2 separate regions of the Homo sapiens genome follow, and region 2 is linked to region 1. The links come from fine-mapping of genetic effects on gene expression. A gene starts in region 1. The other region holds a variant in brackets. All regions are shown on one strand. Distances are between the middles of the regions.

Region 1 (10,362 bases):
TATCCAACTCGTGGTGACAATATCCATTCCTCTTCTAACTCAATACTACATTGGTGTCCTAAGCTAAAGGTTGAACTTTAAGGTTTGTATAAATATGCATGTTATTTGTTACTCATGGACATAAAGGTGGCAGCAGTAGAAACTGGAGACTACTTGAAGCGGGAGGGAGGGAGGAAGGCAAAGATTGAGAAACTAACTGTTGGATACTATGTTCAGTACCTGGGTGATGGGATCCTTTATAATCAAACTTCAGCATCACACAATATACCCAGATAACAAACCTGCACATGTGCCACCTAGATCTAAAATAAAAATTGGAAAAAATGCATACGTATTATATAAAATAACAGTAAAATAGAAGAAGAGAATCTGGATCTTCTGGATCATATGGCTCAAGGGGCAGGGCTTGACAACTACTTGATACATTGCCAACATATGATATCTATTACCTCTAAAACCCAAAAAGATTGGCTCCTTTTTGGGGTTAGAGAGAGTGCAACAGTGCAGCACTGAAATTTTAGTTTAAAGGCAGGATTTTTGTATGTCTAGACCACTGCATTCCAGAAGCTACACTGTACCCCAAATTTTGTGTTTTATTTCTCCTATCACTTGGTACATATATGTATGTTCAGGTTATCTACAGTACCAGTTCTGGTTTTCCAGGGTAATTAGTGGGATATACAATAAGTATGATGAATCTGGATGATGGTTCCAAGATGGGAGGCGCTCAATGATCCTGTAGACTAGATTATGACAGATAACAAAGTAAAATAGTAAGAACCATTCTTGCTATCACTGGATGAAAACAAATTATTTGTAGTATTGTGGGTTCCTGGAATAGTAAATATATGATTAGCTTGAAAGCTTTGTAAAAGATGACAGGAACTGTAATGATATGGGCAAGTAAAGAGACTGTATCAGGAAACTGTCTTCAATTACAGTTAATATCAGTTATGATTATGATAATCCACTTATATCCTTAAAGGTTCATTTGCTTTTTACATACAATAAGTAAACTAAAAAATCAGGGAAGAGACAGGAACCACCAGTCCTCAATATTTTAATTTCTTGATACAAATCGAGATACCTCTAATCTGAAAATCCAAAATCCAAAATGTTCCAAAACCCAAAGGTTTTTGAACACCAACATGACATGATACCACAAATGGGGAATTTTACACCTGACCTCATGTGCCACATCACAGTCAACATGCAGTCAAAACTTATTTATTTTATGCACAAAATTATTAAAATATTATATAAAATTACGTTTGGGCTATGCTTATAATGTATATGTGAAACCTGAATTTTGGGTTTAGACTTAGGTCCTATCTCCAAGATATCTCATTATATACAAGCAAATATTCCCAAATCCATACAAAATTCTGAAATCCAAAACACTTCTAAGTCTATTTTTGGATAAAGGACACTCAACCCATATTGGTATAAATGTCTGAAATCCAGAACAGATGTGGTGTTGCATGTTTCTTATATTATTTTAGTAAAGAATTAAAGGGATTGCACTGTGGCTCTCATATTACAAGAAGCCAGTGTAGATATTCTGCCAGGTTCTAACTATGGTTAATTCACATTTGTGTGTGAAAAGTGAAGGAAATGAACACAGAGTAGAATCAGAAATGTACTCTTAATATCATTTTATGAGACATACTTGAACCAAAGTTTCATTCCTCTTCTGCCAAACCACGGTGACTTTCCACGACCCAAGAGATTCCTAGCAGCCAAGTCCATGAACCACATTCTCTTCAGACTGCTGCCTCTTCTCTGCATGTTTACATGTGTAGGTGGCCACAAGCCACACAGGCACACCTGTGGTAACGTCAGAATGTTCTTCCTCATAGGAATGCTGTTTTTCCTTTAAGGAGCTTTGTGTCTATAAACTGACTCAGGTTTAGAAATTGGGTGAAGAATCCTGATTCTTCATTTTAGTGACTTCAGTCAGGTCACTCTTCTCCAGACCTGGAGGTTTTTTGTTTTGTTTTGAAATTTATTTTCTTTAAATTTTTTATGGCCAGTCTAACAGGACTTTATTAGATTGTTCATCTATTTTAGTCCTAGGGGCATCATGATCACTTGGCCCCCACCAAAGAACCTGCAGTTCAAATCATTTTGATTACAGTGCTGACCGTGCTATTCACACCAGTAGCCATGCTGCTTCTGCCTGTAGCAGTTACTTGCTATGGTGAATGATGGTTGCAAGTAGAGAATCATTGAAGATGAATACAGAAAATACAAAACTGATCTAGTTATACAGAATATAATTTAATACAAGCAATTAGGAATAGGCCTTAATTTCATACCCATGTTGCTGTAACAGAAAAGTCATTAAGTACTGCAGCCACAACTGCTATTTGTGAGGCTCTCACTTTTAATACTGCCTCTGACAACCACAAAGCTAAGTCACTAGAAGACGGAATCTAGATATATCTATTTCACATTTTTACATGCAATGAGCTCTGCCTCCATTCTGCTTCACCCCCGCCTCCAACTTTATTGATGTATAATTGACAAATAAGAATTGTATATATTTACGGTTTACTCTCAGTAAATTTCAAGCAGACAGTACAGTATTTACCATGCTGTACCTTATATCCTTTCAAGCCTTATTCTGTTGCATCTAATTGAGGCAATCTATTTTTCATCTATAAGTTTAGTTGCAAAAGTTGTGAAAATGTACTTTTTGTTTAGAATCCTTTCAATTTAGCAAGGTAGAGTACTTTCTCTAAGAGTTACTTTTCCTCGAAATACTTTTTTTTTTCTTTTTTTTGAGACGGAGTCTCGCTATTTCGCCAGGCAGGAGTGCAGCGGGGAGATCTTGGCTCACTGCAACCTCCGCCTCCAGAGTTCAAGCTATTCTCCTGCCTCAGCCTCCCGAGTAGCTGGGACTACAGGCGTGCACTACCATGCCCAGCTAATTTTTGTATTTTTAGTAGTGACAGATTTTCATCATGTTGGCCAGGATGGTCTTGATCTCTTGACCTCATGATCCGCCCACCGTGGCCTCCCAAGATGCTGGGATTACAGGCGTGAGCCATTGCGCCTGGCTTCTAATTACTATTTATTTGCTTGTGCTTTCATTATAATACCAGTAGCATAAAAAGTTGTCAGCAGGATAATTGGCAAAAAGTGATGAAAAATTATAATAAGTAACTCTTTTGAAGATTTGTGATGTGCTAAGCACTGCTTTTAGTATATTGCATGTATTAAATCTTATGTTTTACATCAACTTTACTGAGTACTCTAATTACCTCATTTTACAGGAAAGTAAACTGAAACATGAAATATTAAAGAAACCATCAAATATGATAGCAGTAAGTGGCAAAACTGGGTGTCTAATATAACCAGTGTGTATTTCCAGAACACATGTCCTGAACCACTGTGATATACCATCTCCAGTTTAATATTTTCTAAGAATGAGGCTCCACCTTGCTGGTCACTGATCATTCTCTTGGCAATCTCTCCACAGCTGTAGCAAGAATTCTACATTCTAAAACATTCTGAAAGTGTGGAGTCTCTTAACCTGTTTTTTTCGGTTCTTTTTTAAGACTTCCTAGACACTCTTCTCTATGATCACTAAATTAACTAATTTCATATATTCTAAATAATCCTGATACCTCACTTTTCTTAATGGAAAACAAATTATTAAAAATAAGGATGTCCAACATGTACTCAAATATATCAAGTATTTATTTATTTATTGACTTATGTATTGTCAGTTGTGGTGACAGAGACAATCATGTTAAGTTTTTGCACGAAGAAGAGGTATAGAACTTTTGTATTTGAAATAACTTTAGAGTTTATTAAAGTTAATTTTGGACATCAAAATATATTTCCTAATACATTGTTTTTCTTTCCATTATAAAAACTTTTATTTCACTATCAGAGTTGTTTTGGGATAATATGTACATTGAATTAAAGACTGAAACAAAAGAGAAAGAAAGGTAAAGATAAACTAAGATAATTAAAAGAAGGCAGATGTCAGATAATCTGATGTAAGAAAGATATTTTCCAAGTTAGAAATTAATTAATTCACTTTCCTGTAAATATATGTAACAGAAGCATTAGGGTCCTGGCGTATGTGTGATTCTCTCAACAGGGAGAATGTGGTCAATCAGTTGACGCTCTAATGGGGACAATGTAACCCTTGCTTGCACATCTGGGTTTCCCAAGTAACTGGTAGTGAATGGAGTTAGAAAGACAATATATATAGCATTGTATATAAGCACAAATTTGCAAGAATTTACCTTATGCCCTGTGGAGATAACCATGACACAAGTCTGACTTCTGTAAGCCCCAAATATTTCATTTGTGAAATTAGACCACCGGTTGCTAGGACTCCTTAAAGATGCTCTGAAATTCTGCTAGTTGACAATATTATTCTATGTAGTTGAAAGGATGGATGGTTCAATCCACATATTTTGGTATTTATGTTTCTTAAAAATAACAGAATCAAAGAATAATTTAATTTAATTCATATAGGTGACCTCTACTACTGAAATATTTCTGATATCATACACTTCCAATCTGAGGGGCTTCGAACACAGTAGATCTTGTATAAAATGCGGCATTCAGCACTTCACTATCTCAAAAGCGGACCCTTACTAATTCTACTAATTGTTTTAAACTTTAGCTTCAATATTATCAGCTCAGATTGGAACTGTCTGAGAAACTTAATGAACAGAGATTTTTATATTTTATTTATATTTTATATTTTATTTGATATTTCTTCCAAAGACAGAGGACTATATTAATGTTTGATACTTTTCTATTTAGATGCAACTGTGAAACCTGGACTCCTTTTTTAGGTTTAACATCAAATATAGAAAATATATTTATTTTATGAGACTGTCCTATGATATTCTTTCACTAACCAAATAGTTCTCAATTTTATTAATAGAAATGAATGAATTTGGCTAGGTGCGGTGGCTCACGCCTGTAATCCCAGCACTTTGGGAGGCCGAGGTGGGCGGATCACAAAGTCAGGAGATCGAAACCATCCTGGCTAACACAATGAAACTCCGGGTCTACTAAAAATACAAAAAATTAGCCGGGTGTGGTGTCGGGCACCTGTAGTCCCGGCAAGAGAATGGCATGAACCTGGGAGGCGGAGCTTGCAGTGAGCCGAGATCTCGCCACTGCACTCCAGCCTGGGTGACTGAGCGAGACTCTGTCTCAAAAAAAGAGAAATGAGTGAATTTAAGGCCAAACACTATGGGTCACATCTGTGATCTCAGCACTTTGGGAGGCTGAGGTGGAAGGATCACTTGAGCCTAAGAATTGGAGACCAGCCTGGACAACATATTGAGACCCTGTCTCTACAAAAAAATAAAATAGAAATGAATCAGTTTATTGCCATTGCTTTTAAAGAGGCTATTAAACCAAACAAACATTTAATAATCACTATAATAAGAAATAGTTATGAGTAATTAAACTGTCTAGATATGATTGAATATATAATATAACCAAAACATTTTATGCATACTCTAGAACATATAATATTGAATAACAATTTTTGAATCATGAGCCCTTGTGTCAATATTCTAACTGGCATACTTGTTTGCAAAAGGTAAAAAGCAAGGTCTAACCATCCTGGCATATTGCACTAACGTATAATAAAAATTCCCTTCCTAAATTCTTTTAAGCTATTATAGGATATCTTTCTGTGTCACAAAAACGCCCTTTCTCTATCTTGTGACATATGACTCAACTCTAAAAATTAAACTCCTTTAAGTTGCCAACCTTTTTGAACTCCATTTTCACTGAACACTATTAATTCAATTAATCATATCCTATTTCTATTGACTTATTGCACCTTGTCATTCCTGGAGAAGTGATGGAACTGAAACTGACATTCTTTTATTTCCTTTTATATTTTAAAACTGCAATAATTGTGGCATAGTTATGTCCCATTTCCTACTTCATGCATTTAAGAGAACTTCATTTAAAAACAGAGATAACTAGATTCATTCTGAGCAATGCCGATCACAGTATAAATGAATCCCTTTTGAATTTTTAGGTTAAGGAAGATTTGCAATTATCAGCTCATTAAGTATAATTTGAAAATTTTATTGGATAAATATGCTATTTTATCTGGTATATATTTTTAACTTGGTTACAGAGTATTCTGGATACCTTTTACTGTCATTTGTTGAATTAAAATTCTTAACTAAATCTCCTGCTTCAGAAAAATTAACTTTGGCTTTTCTCCTCTTTTTAAATTGCAGAGAATCCAATTGAATGCTATTATAGTTTGGATATTTGACCCTCCAACCAGCATGTTGAAATTTGATCCACAATGTTGGAGGTGGGGCCTAATTGGAGGTGTTTGGATCATGGTGGTGGATACTTCATGAATGGCTTGCTACTGTCCTCCTGGAAATTAGTAAGTTCTCACCTATTTTATCAACAATAGCTAGTTGCTAGCCCCTCACCTTCACTTCTCTCTTGCTTTCTGTCTCTTGCATGCAATCTGTGACCATTTGCTCCCTTTGCTTTCCACCATGAGTGGAAGCAGCCTGAGTCTCTCACTAGAAGCAGATACCGGTTCCATGCTTCTTGTGAAGCCTGCAGAACTGTGAGCAAAATAAACCTCTTTTCCTTATAAATTACCCAGCCTCAGGTATTCCTTGATAGCAATACAAATGGACTAAGATAATTACCTATTTCAAAACGTGCTTAGCTATGCATATATTTAGGCAAAACTTCCAATTAATTATCAATATTCATTTGCATGATTTATTTTTAGTGTTTTCCTTCTTATTTTACAAATAAGCTTACAAAGATGGGACTCTAGCTTTCAAAAGTGATATTAATGAAAATGTATTTAAAAATTCTGGCATCTCACGAATATTAGAAAAATTTTTTAAGGAATCTACTTTCAAATTTTTTATTCTAATGTGATCAAACAATTTTAAATACACAAAATTGAATAATGGTGATTCTCTAGGGTTTTGTTTTTTTTTTTCACTAAAAGCTTCAACATATTTTTGCCACTAACTTTTTATGGAGAGGTGCTTTGAGCTAGTCAGTATAACTGACTTGGTTTCCTTCCTCTCTTTTTTACATACTGGTCTTTAAATGTCTTTATTAATAAGCAACTATCTAGCCAAATATGAATATGATAAAGGATATAAGTATTGGTAAATAATTTTTTAAAAATGGCTTGTCAACTTGAAAAAAACCAAGTATTGCAGATTAAAGTAGATCAAAACAAAACATTTTAAACAATTAATTGTGACTTACAAGCAAAAACTCAAACAATGTGCTATTACAATTGTGGACTGAACTTTGTTTTCATATACTCAGTTAGGTGGATACATTACATTCTTAGTTACTTGGGTAGATTTTAAATCCCTTGACCAGAATCTTAAAAATTCTCACTCTACTTTTTATTTGTTGCTCTGCCATAACTCAGTTCTATAGAAGATGATGCAAAGCAGTTTTTTTTTCAATAAAGAATGAAGTGACTCCGTGTACAGGCAAAACCTATAAGTAGTCGTCAAAGGAAGAGCTTTTAATATGATGGTAAACCATGAACAGTTTGTTTTAAATAAACTTGTTTTGCAATAATTTAGTTTCACATAAATGTTACAAAATTAGTACAGAAGTTTCCTGTATACCACTCACCCATTTTCTCTTATTATAAACATCTTGCCTCAATATGTTATATTTATTCCAACCAATAATATAACATTGATACATTGTTATTAACTAAAGCTTTTACATATTTAGATTTTCTTAGTTTTTACTCAGTGTTCTTTCTCTGTTTCAGAGTTCCATGCAGGATATATGACATTTAGTTCTCATGACCCCTTAGGCTTCTGTAGCCTGTGACAGTTTCTCAAACTTGCCTTGTTTCCGATAACCTTGACCGTTGGAGGAGCATTGACCAGCTGTTTTGTAGAACCCTGCTCAATGTGGGTTTATCTGATTTTTTTTAATGGTTAGACTTTGGTGACATTTTTAGGGGGAAGGAGGAAGATTACAGAGGCAAAGTGCTATTCTCATCACATCATATTAAGAATACATGGTATGAACATGTCATTAATATTAACTATCATCACATGGCCGAGGTAATAGTTCTCATTTTTCTTCACTGTAACACTACTTTTTTCCTATTTTCATACTATAATCTTTGAAAATAAGTCATTGAGCAGCCCACACTTAAGCATCACTTCTTGAGAAGGTATTATCTACATAAATTATTTGGATTATTCTGATGTTATATTTATCTATTCTGTTCTATTCATGTATTAAATCAGTTGCTTATATAAAGATGAATATTTATTTTAAACTTTTGGTTTTAATTCAGTTCTCTTTTTTGTTTCTGAAACTCTTCTAGCTTTGGCCACTGGAAGCTCTTCCAGTTGGCTCCTGTATCCCTTGACACACCCTTTCCTGTCTTTTTTTTTTTTGTCTTTTTGTTTCGTTAGTCCTTATTTTCTGGTACTACTTCAGGCCCAATTTCTACATTACTTGTCTCAGTTCTAGAATTAACCATGGCCGCAAGGAGCCCTGGGTCCTTTTACTGCAACATGTTATCAGAAGGGCTCAATGTTACTGGTATGAACTGACATTGAGGGAACAAAAGAGTCAATGACTTAGAATTTCATAGATGATCTAACTCAGTTGTCCCCGTTGAAACCTCTGACCCAGGTTTAGGGATAGTATTAAATGGTTAGCTTCTGTGCCACTATCTATGTATGTGACTGTAAGGATGTCAATATAACTTTTAGAACCCAATTTCTTCATCTGTAAAATAATGAGCAAAATTAATAAATGGGGACTCTCCAAGAAGACAAAACAACCTTATCTTTAGTGTTTGGTGATTTATAGAATTTGGTCTTTTCCATCATGTAAATGTCCCTAAGATGGCTGATTCGCAACTACTGATCAAAAAGCTTGTAAAAATTCCTTAAAATTGAATTATTAGTTCTCTTGAGCTGATAATGAGTCTTGCAATACAAGACCCAGCCAACAATACAAGCGATAGACATGCAAATACTCAAAAATACATAGATGCAATTCACATAAAAACAAACCACATATGCACATGCATCATTTTTAACAATGAGAAAGGTAGTTTTAGTCTTTAACAACAAATGAAGTGTGCCACCGTGGGCTCAGGGAAGGGGCACCTTTGCCAATGCCTCTCTGTTCCCTTGCAGGCATTTTCCCACCCTTCTACATCATGGTATTTAAACCCCAGAGGGGATATGTAAATGTCCACATTCCTCAGAACAACATTAGTGCTCCCCAAGTGTGGCTAGGCTTCCAGTGGCCCAGGAGTTGCAGAGTTTTCTCCTGGATGAAAATTTGGATCCTGGTTCCCACTGCAGGCTTTTGTTTTTCAGGCACTCATCATGAGGTAGATGTCGGGAAGTTGTTTCAGAGCATCAGGGCCACCAGTGTTGCCTGCAAAAAATCCTGGTGGAGCACACTGCTGTCCTTTTTGATATCTGAAATGGAGAGGCTGGTGGAGGTCCATGGGGCATTTGTTGACTAGCTCCTTTTGAAAAACAAAATTTTGAGTAATGCAAACACTACTGACTTTATGTCCTCTTTCACCAGGTCAAGGGCCATTGACTTCCAGACTTTCTTGATGGAGTTCCACTGCAGCTCTGGCTTAATTTTCTTCTTCTATGGCCAGGAATCCTCCTAGATGATGAGATAGATGCCATTTTCTGTGCTCAGCAGCTCTTACCTGGACTTCTCTTCCAGATGCAGTAGGTATACAGACTTGTGGAATTTTATCTTTATCTATTCAGATAGATAATTTTCTAGATATAGATCTATCTAGATATAATAGAGATTATATATATGGAAAATGACTAACCAAGTTAATAATCAGAGAAATGAAAGCATACCTGATAATAGGCCATTTCATGACAATTCTGGCAAAATTAATTTTTTTCTTAATTTTTATTTCCACTATTAGTAGAAACAAATAAGCCCTCACATGCTGTCATAAACTTAGTGGGAGAATAAATTGGCATGGCATTTTTAATGAAATATGAGGCAAAATCAGTCAAGAGTCTTGCAGTTCTTCATATACTTAAATCAGTAATATCATGCATTGACGTTATCCTAAATTAAATATCAATAAGATACTATTAATATGAAGAGTGCAGGCATAGAAATCAATATCTTAGATTTGAATCTCAACTCCTGAACCTCAGTTTTTTCGTCTGTAAAACAGTTATTGATAATAATACTGACTCATAGGATTATTCTTAGTATCACATAGTAAACTATCAAAAATATTTGTTTAAAAAGTACAATTACTATAGTACAATTTATAATAAAATTTCTAAATATAAAGGAAGAAATTTATATGATAAAATA
Region 2 (10,362 bases), 970 kb before region 1:
ATAGATTTATTTGAGGAAGACCAGGAGAGTTAATATTGTATATCCTTTCTGTGACACTATAGGATCCTTTCCCAGGTAGATTTGGCTTTTCTTTAAACAATGGTCACTATACCTGAGAAATGGCTCAAGCTTGGAAATTAGGGAATGGAAAGTGATTTATCCATTAGTACAGCTGACATCAGTCTTCTGTGCATCTGCTTTTCATTTAAAAAAATGCAATTATCTATATCAGGCAATGCCCTTGTTGTCTGCCTATGTGCCTTGTTTTAGAAACACCATGGTTTATTAGATATCACCATAGATAACTGCAACTTTGATGCCTGCAAGTAACTCTGTCTACCTTCTCCCTGTGATTAAATGCTGCCATCTGGCCTCTGCTATTTCAGATCCTTCCCCGCTGATACAAGAAAGTCAGTTCCATTACAGCATCTCCTACTATCAATCCCAGCCTACTAGAAACAGTAACAAATGAGCTTTTTGATGATGCCAGTGTCCTCCTCACTAATGCATTCCCTAACAGTTAGTGAAAGGAGTGTCTTCCAGGACTATGCAGGGAACATGGTTATTTGGTGGATTCTTAGGTCTTATGTAACTATCTTGCTCACCTCTCTGAGCCTGCTAATCTCTTTCTCAATACTCTGCCCAGGAATTTTAACCTCAATTAATATGACTCATTGTTTTTTTCCAAGTTTCTGGGGATAAACCAAGCAAAATTTATTAGGATTGACTGTGGATTTCCCTGCTAGGGTGTTGGGTTATGGGAGCATGCCCCCAGATTAAAAAATTCTCCCTTATCCAGCTTATAGTCCACCTTTGCCAGTTCAGCACCTTCAGGATCCACTTCTAGGCATGTTCTTTCAGTTCTTGCCAGCACCTATGAGACAGATCCTGGATCTCCCTCAATGAATAATTCCTTTTCTCCTTTAGCAGATGGAGTACTCTCCCAATCAGATCATGCAAGAATAATAGGAAGGGAGGTGTGGAACCATCTTAAAAGGTGAGTGTAATCTTGCAGAGCATTGATCACAGTTGAGGTTTCTGCACAGTGTTTAGGCAAGAGGAAGCTGATGTTCTGCAGGTAGAACTGGGGTACTTTTTCAGGCTCAGGAGTTTAGGGGCATTGGGAGTTTAATAATTTTGTGTGTATTCCAGGAATTTCCATTCCATCTCAGGATCCCACTCCTTCTCTATCAGGATCCTACCTTTAGCATAAGAAACTTGCCAAAATATTAATCAGCCTTCTTTGCAGGTTTGCTACTCTCACTCTTAAGTTTTGGTTCTGGTCTTCAGGACCACCTTATATGCAGCTACAGATGAAGATATTCTCTTTAAATCCTGCCATGGAGAACTTACAGCTTTCACATTATGTTCGGAATTGGTAATTTGCTGACGTAAACTTGGAATTTTATTTCTTCAGTCCATTGATGGCACTTAATAATGACCACAAATCCCACAGATCTTATAGCTACCATAATCACCATATATCTCAAATACTAGATATTAAACAATCTAGTATGTCTTTTTCCTCTTGTGTTCCATCCCAATTCACCACGCATGAAAGTTTAAGCAATGGTCCTGGGGTTTTGTCACTTTACTTACCACCAACAATGAGGTTCCTGTTGCCTTCTAGCCAGTGAGTCATCCAAACACTGAATCCTATACTGAGTATCAGCTTTCAGCATCATTTCTGCTACTAAGTTTCTTAGGTTGCGTTCTCCAGTAGCAAATTCTGAGTTAAGGGTTTGTGTAAAAGTGATTAATGGAGTATTCTCAAGAAGACCGTAAGGGAGTGGAAAAGTGAGGCAAGAAATAAAAGAAGCCAAGCAAGGGTGAGTCCTGTGATGAAGAACTTTGACTCATTCCTGCAAGGAAGATCAAGAGACAGTGTAGCCACACCTCATAGCTGTCATGATCATGGGCAGTAAGTTGGAGTGTTTATACAACTCAAATGGAGTCATTGATGACAACAGTTGTCACTGCTGGGAAATAATTTCCCAGGCCACTCCTTGTGTGCCGAGGCAAAGAGTATTGGGATCCTGAGGTTAGTCCTCTGACAAAGATATATGGTTAGTGGCTGGTGAAAGTGAAAACATGCTGGTGGACATAGCCAGTGTGAATGAAAATGTAAGGAGGTATACAGGACTGGGGAGGAGAACCAAATGTGTCTTCTAGAGAGATGATAATGGCAGACAATCAATAATTAGAGGTAATGATATTTTTTGATAATGTTGGATAACATATATAATACCATTACCCTACTGCCTCCAAGAGATTAGTCTCCAGAGAAAATTTTTAGTTGTCCTAAAATTACCAGATGATTTGTCTCACTGTTTAAGTCTCACAGCTACTATTTTTTCTTTGTGACAAGATCTCAAACATTCTCACTATTACTTAAACTCTTTTCTTCTTCTTTTTTTGTCCTCCTCCTCCTTTTTTTTTTTTTTTCTTTTTTTCTTTTGAGACAGAGTCTCGCTCTGTTGCCCAGGCTGGATAGAGTGCAGTGGCACAATCTCGGCTCACTGCAAGCTCCGCCTCCCGGGTTCACGCCATTCTCCCACCTCAGCCTCCCAAGTAGTTGGGACTACAGGTGCCTGCCACCACACCTGGCTAATTTTGTTTTTGTATTTTTAGTAGAGACGGGGTTTCACCGTGTTAGCCAGGATGGTCTCGATCTCTTGGCCTTGTGATCTGCCCTCCTTGGCCTGCCAAAGTGTTGGTATTACAGGCGTGAGCCACCGTGCCCGGCCCTCTTCCTTTGTTTTTATTTAATGTATCCATTAAAGAAATTTCGGAAATGACCAATCACTGATCATATTGTGGACATTTTGGTGTTTTTCCTCTGTCTTAGCCCATTTTGTGTTGCTATAACAGAATACCGCAGACTGGGAAGTTTATAAAGAAAAGACATTTATTTTTTACAGTTCTAGAGGCTATGAAGTCCAAGGTTGAGGGGCTCACATCTGGTGAGGGTCTCCTGCTGCTTCATCCCAAGGAAGAAAGTGAAAGGGCAAGAAAATGTGAAAGAGCAAGAGAGCAAGAGAGGGCCAAACTCACTTTTATAACAAGCCCACTCTGTGATAACTAACACACTCCTGAAATAATGATATTCATCCATTCATGAAGGCAGAGCCCTTATGACTTAACCATCTCTTAAAGGTTGGACCTCTCAACACTGTTGCATTGGGGATTAAGTTTCCAACACATGAACTTTGGGGGAAATATTAACATGATAGCAGCCTCCTAATTTTTTTTTGCAGATAAATTTTAAATAATTTTATTTTAAAAAGTATTTTCAAATGGTTATTGTTCTTCCAAAGAAACTTTACTACTATGAATCAATCATTCAACAAAAATATAGTGAGCCCTTTATATGTATTTGACAATGTCCTAGCCACTGTGAGGTTATAGTATTGAACAAGGCAAAAACACTTGACCTCTGCTTGGGGAAGAAAGATAATAAACTAATATATAATGTGTTAAATGGAGATAAATGTGTTAAGCGGAGAAAAATAGACATGCAGGGTGAGGAGAAAAGGAGTACTTTGTGCCTATGTCTCTGTGTGTGTTGTTTTCAGAGAGTGGTCTGGGAAGGCCTCATGATCAGGAGGTAGTGAGAAGAGGTCTGAGGGGAATGTACTATGTGGAGGGAATAGCAAACACTTTGAGATAGGAATATGTTTGATGGGTTCAAAGAACAGCTAGAAATTGGTGTAGGAATTGAAAGTGTTGGCTCAAATGGAGTGAGCCAGGAGGAGAGTTGAAATTACAGCAGTTGTGACCAAAGTGGAGTGTGGGTAGCTGAATAACCAGGGTCTTGGGAGCCATTTTAAAGACTTTGGTTTTTATTCTTGAGATGAAGGTCGTGGGCAAATTTGAAGAAGGGGAGAGTCATGATCTGACTCACATTTTAAAAGACTCAATCTTATTGCTTCATGAAAAAGAGACTCTAGGGAGCAGAGGCAGAAATACAAAGACTAGTCAGGAAGCTGTTGCAATAATCACAAGACCAGGATACTATCAGTGGAATAGTGAAAACAGGTCAGACTCTGGAAAGAAAATATGCACATATTTGCCAGAAATCCTAGTAGGATTTACTAATAAGTGGTATGGATTAGATATGGAGTTTATAATTTGACTGGGAGGAATATTTTATATTTTTATTCATCTCTAATTCATGTTCCCTCTGATGTATCATTTTAACTTTAGGAAAAAATTTCCTTTATAGATAATTCAATTACCGTGAGGAATGCTTAAACTACAGACATTTCCATGGGTTACTGATAGTCATAGTGACAGATTACCATGCAACATAGTTTTAGTCACAGTGAGGGCTACACAAAAAAGTAAGACTTATCCCTGGCTTTGATGAACTATTGGCCCTTTGACAATAAAAAATAGATAAGGCTAAGGTATGTGGTATATGTCATAATATATTTGAAGACATGTCCATATGTAAAACATTTATGGAAAACTCTCTCTCTCTCTGATTTCCCCAGACTCTAAGTACAATACCAATTCAGAAATAAAGAAAAAAATCAATCTGGGTTAATGCCTAGTCACTGAAAGACTTACCAAGGAAGTACTTTAGCTTACAAGGAAACGTAGCATATGAATGGGGAGAGAGATCAGCAAAAGAAGTTAGAAGTAGAAATGGGTAGAGCTTATAATGGGATAGAGATTGGCCTGATGTGAATGAATGAATGAACAATAATCGAATAAGTATGAGTGTGTTTTCTTGAGATAAACATTTGTGTAAATAACACTAGTTTTACAGATATTTCCCCCCGGACTTTCTAAATAACTCAGTGATTCCTAGTAATGTTTTGGTTTGCAGACACTTTGAAAATTTCATAAGTGGTAGAAAATGCACATTTGGGCAAAATTTTATGTATAGTTTAAGGAATTCATGAATATTCTGAAGCTGGGGGTCCATGGAACCCAGACTGTGAACTGTTGAGAGTGTTTCAAAGCACTTTGGTTTTGCCATCAAGCAACAACTATGCTTTAAGATCCCTTTTCTCCTGAAACATTTCAACCAACTTTGCCAGAAACATTACCAAAATTAGAACGTCACAGATCTAGCTGCAAGTCGGAAAATAGATCAACCCTGTGACCTGAGAATAATATCTAGATCTCTAAGTTTTTCCTTTTTTTGTGCAGTAAAGAGAGGAAAAGATGCTTTGGTATTCCTAAACACTTGACTGGATTTCCTGTATAGACTGAGTGTGAATTTAGGAGGTGTTGAGTGCATTGTTATCCATGCATAGATGCAGTTTCCCAGTGAAATATGCTTACCTTAGAGTGGAGATGAGCAAGGACATTTGAGGTAAGATGTGGAAAGAGCCATCAATTAACAGTTTTAAGGAATAAGCTTAAAAATAAAATTCAGCTTTTCTGCGCCATAGAATTCTGCAAGTAATCACCAGAGGCATGAGGGTGTGGACTGTGAGGGCAACAAGTCATGGTTGTTTTTTCTCTATTACATTACATATTACCTATGAGCTATTTGTTTATTTATTTATCTCTTCCAGGGTGATTAAAATGCACCCTTTGTAGAGCTCTCTGGGCACAGGCACAGAATAATAATGGCTTGGTAAGCTGTGTGCTCTGGAAACCCTGCAAGCAAGCAGAGTCAGGTGGAATTGACACAGCTGAACTGGTAGCTGTCACTGAAATGTGGGTTGACCTCCAAGGGTGTAAGTGTCACTGTAGCAAAGCACTTTGTGAGCAGAGTGAGATGAACAGCAATGATCTCTTTCAGAATAGCAATCTTGGGGACAGTCATTTTCTCTCTCTGATTTCTGGGTTGAAAACTGCACTGCGCACTTTAGAGAGATGCCTTGAGTTTTATGTAGTGCATTATATTTTTTCACGGCACCCTGTGTAGGTGTCCAGATGGCAACCAGGTGAAATTGGTCTGAGCCAACACAAAGCAGCAGACTGCATTGATTTGCCTAACATCTTAAAATCAGAATAAAAAGGTATTGCGGCTATGCCTACACGATTTACACTGTCACATGCATAAAATGGTTAAAAAGCTGTGGTCTTGGGAATCAGGCAGGTGT[A/G]TATTCTGTTCTGGGCTTTGCCACCCACTAGTTACTTACTAGTATTGGCTTCTTGAGTATTGACTTCTTTATCTCAAAAATGGATATAAGAATATTCTATTCCTGAGGTTGTTTTGAGGATAAAACAGATAATTTCTATCTGAAGCTCTTAGCAGAATGCCTAATATGTAAGTAAACTCTCAATATGTGTGACTTTTCTTGTCAGTCTGATCTTGAACTTAACCTCACTACTCTGCTTACTGCAAATGCTCTTCCCCCAGGTTTTCTACCTTTCTAGATACCGCTAAGACTGCACAGGACTCTCTTCTCTGTTCTCTGGGCAGTTCTTGCAGCAGCAGCAATTTCATTCCTGCTGCTGTGACTTGTACACAGGTGAGACAAGAAAACCCCTTGTAACTCACTACCAGGGCTTCATGGAGGCAAGTGAATTTCTAGTCTATTCTCTCAAGCTGCAGCTTGGATCAATTTTCCCTGTGAAAATGGCACTGCTAACGTTTTGGCACAAACTTTTTCTATGTATGACTACATTTAGAAAATCACAGTCATGTTGTCTACACTGGCTAGGAACCTGCTTTTTCTAATTTAAAAATTGTGAGCATTTTCCAACGTCATGAAATATTCTTTAAATGTAATTTAAAATGAGTTGCCCTGTTACATTTTTCTAAAAGTGGAGACATCTTTATTTTAAAGTAATATGTGACAAACAGTCCCTCATTTCACTCCTCAAAAATAATTGCTGTTAGGAATTTCATTTGATATCTTTCAAGACATTTCTGCAAGTATAAACCTATAATGAATGCATTCTACATAAACGTAGCTATACCACATATTGTATTCCATAATCTGCTTTATTAACTCAACAAAATATTGTGGGTATCTTTAAAAGCTAAATAGTATTTCGTTATATGGATACATCGTTATTCACTCAATCTCTTATTAGACATTCTCATTTTCAATATTTATTATGCAACATTCGACAAATGTATTTATGTATCATATTTGTTTACTCACACTCTTATTTCTTTCTTTCCTTTTTTTTGTTTTTTTTGAGACAGAGTCTCACTCTGTCGCCCAGGCTGGAGTGCAGTGGCTTGATCTGGGCTCACTGCAAGCTCTGCCTCCTGGGTTCACGCCATTCTCCTGCCTCAGCCTTCCGAGTAGCTGGGACTACAGGCACCTGCCACCACGCCTGGCTAATTTTTTATATTTTTAGTAGAGATGGGGTTTCACCGTGTTGGCCAATATGGTCTTGATCTCCTGACCTCGTGATCCATCCGCCTTGGCTTCCCAAAGGGCTGGGATTACAGGTGTGAGCCACCGTGCCCGGCCACACTCTTATTTCTTTAAGATAAATGATGAGAAATGGAACTGTGGGATCAAATGGTATGCACATTTTAAATGTTGGTACAAATATCCCTCCAGAAATGTTGAATATTTTATATTCCCTTTTAAAATGCATGAGATGTTCCATTTCCCCATACCTTTACCAGAATGTGACTAGTGTGTTTTTTTTTTAATTTCTTGTTAAACTTAAGATATCTGTGTAAGCTGTCTTAAATCCTTATTGGAATTTAACAGTGTATATATCAGAGCCAAATATTTGACAAAATAATACAACAGGTTATGTTGATATTCTTTTAACATAATTTAAAATGAGTTGTCCTGTTATATTTTTCTAAAAGTGGAGACATCTTTATTTTAAGGTAATATTCTTTATGGTCTCCTCTTTCTACAACATCCATGGGAAAATACTTTCTAAGCTCCAGACCACTGACAAAAATATCAAAGTTGTAAACTTTGCTGAAACAATGGCTGAATTTCTCAGTAAATATTTATTCTATTCCTGTCATAGGCAAAAGTTCCATACCAGACAACTTATGAACCTAGCTTCCATGAAAGCATTGTGACTCATTTTAACATTTTGGGCTAAGTGAGAAATTATCTCCATGGGTTAACTTTCAAGGACTTTACTGAAGACACTTGGAAAATTCAAGGGCTCAGTTATTTCTTCCAGACATGCTATGTAAGATGCATTTATTTTGTCTGCTACTATACTTACCTAGAGACCTCATTATCTGGGAATATGCCATGGCTCTGTGGCTTGAAGTCCTGAGGGAAATATTTTCACCCACCATCATATCAGCCTTTCAGTTTTGAAAGCGGAATGTGAATCAGAAATTTATACTCTAGTCTTCAATTTGTAAAAAGATAGTGCATAGATAAAATGAAAAAAGTAAATGTATGAAAAAGCCCTTGCCCTTATCTCCAGCATGCTAAGTGATATGTGAGCCTTTAGCCACTGCTGTAAGGAGTTGACATGTTCAAATTACAGAGAAGTCTGCTCAGTAAAAAGACTATTTTAATAATTCTGGCCATCAGATGAGTACAGGAAGTATATGAAAATGCTCTAAAGGTGCCTGCAGAAGATGTCATTTGATGACATATAAGTGTCAGCACTCAATTAAAGGGTTACCCCAGTCATTACAGAATGTAAGCCAATTGTGACACATGACAGATCCCTGGGGACATGGTAGTTAGAAGTGTTTCCTCCCTTCCTTCCTTCCTCCCTTCTTTCCTTCCTTCTTTCCTTCCTCCATACCTCCCTTTCTTCCTTCCTTCTTTCCCTCCTTCATTCCTTCTTTCCCCCTTCCTTCCTTCCTCCCTTCCTCCTTTTGAGTAAATTCATGTTTGTCAGTTAGGGATATTAAAACATTGTTTTTATCTTTTCACATTTTAAAAGAGCTGTAAAAAGGTTTTCTTTTCAGAACTGAGATTTGCTGAGTCTTTAGTATAATAGCCAAGAAATTTAAAAAGGAGAAAAGAGCCCATTTTGACAATTGTATCAGCATGTTTATATTGTGATTCCGAAGTATAACGTTCATGGCACAGAATGGCATTTATCACATCATGCTTTCCACTGGGTTGTCTTCTTTGGGCAGGAACATTATTTCATTCCTGTGTTTATCTTTCAAGAGCACCTTGCATAGACTAAAACATCAATAAATTATTTTAAGACATATGTCTAATGGTTGAGTGATTTATGGTTTAAAAATAATGTAGCAACTAGAAGACTGTTCTTAGAGAAAGGAGAGGGAAGATGTTTAATGAGAAGAGCTCCTTTAGAGAAAAAGAATCTTGATAGGCATAAGAAGAATGAATAGGGAAATTAAGAAAATATTGAGTGGAAGAGTTAACTGAAAGAAGTTGCAGTAAAAGAGATTAAACTTGATGGTTCTTAGAAGCTTTTTAGGACTTCCAGAGTGAAATTGGAAAAAAAAAAATTTAGTGAGAGTAGAGATTAATGATGATCCTTAGAAGACTAGTGTCTTTTTTTTAATGTAATAGTAGAGATAGTTGATCTCTCACTCATTCCCTTACCTTCAGGGACATTCCAGTATCCAAAGATCTCTCTCGGTGATCTCGGTTCTCCTGAGAGACAGAACTAGGTATAGGTATGTAGATACATAAGAGGAGATTTACTAGGGTAATTAGCTCATGTGATTATGGAAGCTGAGATGTTCCATAACAGTTTGTCTATAAGCTGGAGACCCTGAGATACCAGTAGTATGTCCCAGTCCAAATCCAAAAGCCTCAGAATAAAGGAAACTGATAGTGTAATTCTCAATCCGAGGCTGAAAGCCTGAGACCCGGGGCCTCTGGTTTAAGTCCTGGAGTCCAAAGGCTGGAGTTTCTGAGTTCTAACATCTAAGATGAAGGCTTACATCTTAGATGTAAGATGAAGGAGAAGAAGGGTGTTCTATCTGCAGGAAAGAAGGAAAAGCAAATTTGCCTTTCCTCTGCCTTTGTTCTATTTGTGCCTGCAGCTGATTGGTTGGTGCCCACACATGTTGAGGGTGTTTTTTTTTTTTTTTCCTCAGTCTACCAATTCACATGCCAATCTCCTCTGGAAACACCCTCACAGACATACCCAGAAATGATGCTTTACCAGTTCTCCACATCATTCTTAATCCGGTCAAATTTACACCTAAAATTAACCATTATAATTCCACTCCTTGTCCCTGAGTCCCTGAGAACTTGTGCCTAAGGTGGTTGGGTTACAGCTTGATTTTATACATTTTAGGGAGACAGAAGTTACAGGTAAAACATAAATCAATAAATGTAAGATTTACTTTGGTGGCCTGGAAAGGTGGGACATCTTGAAAGGGGTTACAGGTGGACTCAAAGATTTCCTGATTGGCAGTTGGTTGAAAGAGTTAGATTTTGCCTAAAAACTTGAAGTCAGCAAAAAGAAATGCTTGGGGTTAAGATAAGGGGGTTTGTGAAAGCCAAGGTTCTT

Which allele goes with the higher level. Positions count from the first base shown, and alleles are read on the strand shown. Sizes are in standard deviations (SD) of each study's normalised expression.
For the expression in pancreas of the gene that starts at base 6,249 in region 1, allele A in region 2 goes with a lower level than allele G (small effect, 0.30 SD a copy in GTEx).

The links. PIP is the estimated chance that this variant, and not a neighbour inherited with it, causes the effect.
Region 2: its variant is the best candidate, but not a certain one, in a credible set for the expression of LINC02477 in pancreas (GTEx, PIP 0.78).

The regions. Positions count from the first base shown.
Region 1 is chr4:160,512,571-160,522,932 of GRCh38, forward strand. It overlaps LINC02477 (long intergenic non-protein coding RNA 2477), which reads left to right and starts at 6,249. Exons shown (of 7, transcript XR_001741914.1): 1 at 6,249-6,400; 2 at 9,589-9,747.
Region 2 is chr4:159,547,507-159,557,868 of GRCh38, forward strand. All of the region lies in intron 1 of LOC107986324 (a long non-coding RNA gene), which reads left to right. Among named protein-coding and RNA genes, the nearest start is that of LINC02233, 230 kb to the right of the region's middle. The variant A/G (reference allele first, on the strand shown) is at 6,066.